2 separate regions of the Homo sapiens genome follow, and region 1 is linked to region 2. The links come from fine-mapping of genetic effects on gene expression. A gene starts in region 2. The other region holds a variant in brackets. All regions are shown on one strand. Distances are between the middles of the regions. Region 1 overlaps FBXO31 (F-box protein 31). Region 2 holds the start of FBXO31 (F-box protein 31).

Region 1 (2,500 bases), 45 kb before region 2:
CTCCGTCAGTTGGGTTTTCATATGGAGAAGAAGGAACCACGACCCCGCCTTATGCCACACACAAGATCATTCAAGATGGGGCACAGGCCTCCACACAAATGCAGAACCTGATGTGATGCTACCAAACTTCTATTAAAAAAAAAAAAAATGGAGCCTATCTTTGCAAACTGAGTATTTTAGGACTCAATTTTTAGGACTTTTTTAGGATTCAGAAAATAACCATAAAAGAAAACAAAAAGTTTCACAAATTGGACCTCATCAAAATTAAAACCTGAGTGGCTGAACTTGAGGAAAGGCTCTTTAAATAACAGATAGAAACAAAAGTAACTGAATGTAATGAACAAAGATTTCAATGTTACCGCTGTGAGTACTGCGACTTCAACTTGACACCATCAGGAAGATGAGCATGTGTAGCCATGACCTCGCTTTACATAAAGAGGTCCAAGCAACGGGACCACCAACCAGACCCTGTTACCCAGAATAAGGCCGTCCCAAGCATGTTTATTATGAAATTACTCATCAGAGCAACACATACAAGCCACAAGAAAAAAAAAAAAACAGGGAGCCCAGGACATGCACGACAACGATCAACTTCACGTTGACCCAGGGCCTGCTCACTCAACACATTGTACTCGCGACCCTCGTGGCAGCGCCGGCAGAGGGGGCTGAGGGTGACAAGGATGCCTGCTGGCTGCTTGAAACAGGAGCATGGCCCATCCTCCCTTCTCTGCTCCTTTCACAGGTCTGAGATTTCCAAAAGCCTCAGTCTTGGGGCGGGGGAGGCGGGCCTGAAACACACAGGGGTGGGAAGGGACATGGTGGCTTGCCCTGGCCCGGCACCCATACAGAAAAGGCCAGGTCTGGGTGGGCCCGAGCGTCCCATTTCTCACAAGGACCCACGGCTGAGGGAACCCACAACCCTGGGAACATCATCAGATCATGCCAGTGACGCAGCCTGGGTACAAGGAATGGCCTCCCGGGGTGGGGGTGACCCACACAGAGATGCAGGGATGCCAAAGAGACTGCATTGCCCTCGAAGCCTCCCCTGTCCAGAGCCTGGCCCCTCCAACCTCCCTGGGCAGACAGGACTCCACTCCCTTGGAACCTGCTTGATGTGGTTTGGCTGTGTCCCCACCCAAATCTCATCTTGAACTGTAGCTCTTCCAATTCCCATGTCATGGGAGGGACCCCAGGAGGTAACTGAATCATGGGGGTGGGGTCTTTTCCATGCTGCTCTCATGATAGTGAATAAGTCTCACGAGATGCAATGGTTTTATAAAGGGGAGTTCCCCTGCACAAGTTCTCTCTTTTTT[T/G]GCCTGCCGCCATGTAAGATGCGCCTTTCGCCTTCCACCATGATTTGAGGCCTCCCCAGCCACATGGAACTGTGAGTCCATGCAACCTCTTTCCCTTATAAATTACCCAGTCTTGGGTATGTCTTTATCAGCAGCGTGAAAATGGACTAATACAGTGCTGATCCAGAAGTTCTCAGCCAGCAGAGCTCAGGGCAGTACCGAATTCCTGTCCCTGATCTTTCACCTCAGTTGTGAAAATTATCAGGATGTGTCACCATGTCCAGACCTCCTGGGATGTCCTCTTCCTGGAATGCAGCTCTCCTGGTGACCTACCTGCTCTCTGGCCTTTAGTGGAGAGGAGCTCCCAGCTGATGCATGAATCCACAGACAGCCCCACCCTCTGAACCCCTACACGTCGTGAGAGAAAAGCAGCGAGGACACTGCAGGCCTCAAGATGAACGAAGTGACTGTGGGAGCAGGTGACAAGCCCCACAGGAGGGCGCAGCCAGTGCAGCCCCTGCAGAAGAGGAGAGGCTGCTCTCACTCGAGGATAGGTGGTACAGCACCGTCAGCAGCCCCAGCCTCTGCCCTACCTGGGACAGTGGCACCCTCACCCTGTCAACTCCCGGAGGGGGAGCTCAGAAGCGGGACGAGCCGAGGGAGTATGTCGGATGGGGGTGTGGACATCACACAAACGGCAGCACCCCATACACTGACCGTAAGCGTGCTGCTATTCCAATTGCAAGAAGAGACAGCAAGGGGATGTTTCTGGGAAATAGCTGCTTCTAGAGTTCACACAGCAAATAAACAAGATGAGCCGGGAACATTCCAAAATAGAAGAGGAATACAGGCAATTAAAATACAGTGATAGGCCAGTGCAATGGCTCACAGCTATAATCCCAACACTTTGGGAGGCTGAGGTAGGAGGATCACTTGAGCCCAGCCTGGGCAACACAGTGAGACCCTATCTCTAAGCCATAAATAAAATAAAACATAGCGATAAAACTACAAGAATTCGGCCGGGCGCGGTGGCTCGCGCCTGTAATCCCAGCACTTTGGGAGGCCGAGGTGGGCGGATCACCTGAGGTCAGGAGTTCGAGACCAACCTGGCCAACATGGGGAAAACCTGTCTCCGCTAAAAATATAAAAATTAGGCAGGCATGGTGGCAGGCGCCTGTAATACCAGCTACTTGGGAGTGAGGCTGAGG
Region 2 (2,500 bases):
ATGTTTTCTAACCTGTCCTTTTTACCTAAATATGAGCTGCTTGAACATCAAAGAGCTGTCAACCTTTAAACAGAGAGAGCCTTGAACTCCAGATTAAATAAACATCTCCTCCTGTGATCTGTTACATCCAATATTGCTGAAGGCAAAAGTCCAGCCCGCACCGCTGTGATCCATCCGTCTCTCTACGCCCCCACCATCAGGAGCCCCCGACACTGGGCTTCCCCTACTCCCGTAATTTTTTTTGTTGCTGTTGTTTGAGACCAAGTCGCACTCTGTCGCCTAGGGTGGAGTGCAATGGCCCAGATGTTGGCTCAGTGCAACCTCCGCCTCCCGGGTTCAAGCCATTCTTCTGCCTCACCCTCCCGAGTAGCTGGGATTACAGGCGCCCGCTACCACGCCCGGCTAATTTTTGTATTTTTGTAAGTAGAGACGGGGTTTTACCATCTTCACCAGGCTGGTCTCGAACTCCTGACCTCAGGTGACCCGCCCGCCTCGGCCTCCCTAAGTGCTGAGATTACAGGCGTGAAACCGCGCCCGGCCTGCTCCCATTTCTTCAAGTTCACCTCGTCTCTGGTCAGGGCCAGCGGGGCACCCTCGGCTCGCCTTCAAGACAGGGGCAGAGGAGGCGGCCCCCAGGCGTCAGCTTAGGCCCCGCGCAGACCTCGAGGGATCCCAGCCCCAGCTCCCGGCACGGCCTCGGCCCCGTGGTGTCCCGTGCCCCGCGTCAGGGCCTCTTCGATGCCTCCCTGACGCCCTCAACCCCTCCCTACCCCGTCTGCCTCTCTTGGACCCCTCGGACCCTCCCTAACCGCCTCAAATACCTCCCTGGCCCCCTCAACGTGGTGTCACCGCGGCCGCTCCCCACCCACACCCAAAACACCACATCGCCGGGCCCCGCGCCCAACTGGTGGCCCCCGGCCGGGGCCACCGCCCCCGCCACTCCCAGCTCCGAGGCCTCCACCTGGCAGGGACCCCCCGCCCCTCCCGGCCCCGCCACCCCCGCGCGCTCACCCTCACGGCAACGCCTCCTCCAGATGGTGTCGGTGTGGAGGATGCGCCGGAACTTCGTGCAGACCTGGGCCAAGCTGGGTAGGTCCGTGCCCGGCAGCGACGCGAAGATCTCCACCAGCAGCTCGGGCGGCAGCTCCAGCAGCGAGCAGCGCGGGGGCGGCGGCGAGGGGCCCGCGCACAAGCCGCCCCCGACCCCGGCGCTAGCCTCGATGCGCTCCTCCTCGGGGTCTGTGTCCGGCTCGCTGTCGGCCGCCGCCGTCTCGGCCGGGCCCCGGCGCTGCTGGCGGCGCCGACATCCGCGCGACGGGCCCACGCCGCAAAGGCGAGCACACACCGCCATGCCGCCCAGTGACGGCCACTGCTGCCGCCTGTGCGCACGCTCCAGCGCGGCCCCGCCCCGCCAGCGCCGAGCCACGCCCCCGCCGCAGAGCTCGCCACGCCCCCTGGAGAGCCTAGCCCCGCCCCTACGTAGAGCTCCGCCCCGGCCGCGCCACCCCCTCCCCGCGGGGCGGCGACCTCAGAGACCCCGCACTGCTGCCCTCCCCTCCAGCGTGAGGGCGCCGCCCGTGACGGGCATGAGAAAAGAAAGTGGTGATGCCGAGTGCAAAACGTTAGACTGCCCCGTGTGAGGCTCGAACTCACGACCTTCAGATTATGAGACTGACGCGCTGCCTACTGCGCTAACGAGGCTGCTCGGCGACCACTTCGCGCCGCGGCTTTTGTGGAGATAGGGGTCGCCCCTCGCGCCCGTGCGTCCCGCTTCCGGCGCCCGAAACTGTGCCGCGCCGGCCGGTGAGTAGAAAGATGCGCCTTACAGCCTCCAAATACAGAGGCAGCAGCCAGAACCCCAAAGGGCGCCTAGAAGCCCTTTTGTCCATTGAAACAACGCGCGTTCCATCGTCTCCGCCTTATGGTAACCAAAAGGCCCGAGCTGCGGAGCTCTGCAGGGACCTTCGGGGATCCCGAGCTCCCTGCGGAAGCCCCGGGGAGGGCTTGGAGGGGCGGCGGCCGGCGCGGCCCAAGAGATCCGGGGATGCGCGCCCGGTCTGGAAAGGGAGGCCCTGCCATGCGGCGCCGCCCAAAGGGCGCCTGTTCCTGCAGCTGCTGGGAGCCGCGCACGCCTGCTCCAGCTGGGCTCCGCCGAGGCCGCTGAGCGGGGTCGTCTCCCAGGTCCGCGGGTGGTGACCGCGAAGGCGTCCTCTCACCTGAGCAGCCGCGCACGTCGCCGTGGGCTCGCCTCGGACCCCATCTCTTGGAGGCCCAGGCGGGAGTATCAATCGAGGCCAGGAGCTCGAGACCGGCCTGGGCAATACAGCGAGACCCTGTCTACAAAACAAAATTTTAGAAAGAGAAGCTGAGACGGGAGGATCGCTTGATCCCAGGAGGCCGAGGCTGTAGTGACCCGTGATGGTGCCACTGCACTTCAGCCTGGGCAACACAGCGTGACCCTGTCTCCAAAACAAACAAAAAACAAAAATAGCCACAAATG

What was found. PIP is the estimated chance that this variant, and not a neighbour inherited with it, causes the effect.
Region 1: its variant is fine-mapped to the expression of FBXO31 in subcutaneous fat (FUSION, PIP 0.91).

What each region holds. Positions count from the first base shown.
Region 1 is chr16:87,337,692-87,340,191 of GRCh38, forward strand. The region is part of intron 5 of FBXO31 (F-box protein 31); the gene reads right to left. Among named protein-coding and RNA genes, the nearest start is that of C16orf95-DT, 21 kb to the left of the region's middle. The variant T/G (reference allele first, on the strand shown) is at 1,314.
Region 2 is chr16:87,382,394-87,384,893 of GRCh38, forward strand. FBXO31 (F-box protein 31) reads right to left here and starts at 1,383. Exons shown (of 9, transcript NM_024735.5): 1 at 1,012-1,383. The coding sequence starts at 1,351. TRM-CAT6-1 (tRNA-Met (anticodon CAT) 6-1) reads right to left here and starts at 1,701; the gene lies at 1,629-1,701. LOC124903747 (a long non-coding RNA gene) reads left to right here and starts at 1,540. Exons shown (of 2, transcript XR_007065168.1): 1 at 1,540-1,803. RefSeq lists silencers at 739-978, 1,119-1,778 and enhancers at 1,186-1,839, 1,840-2,491.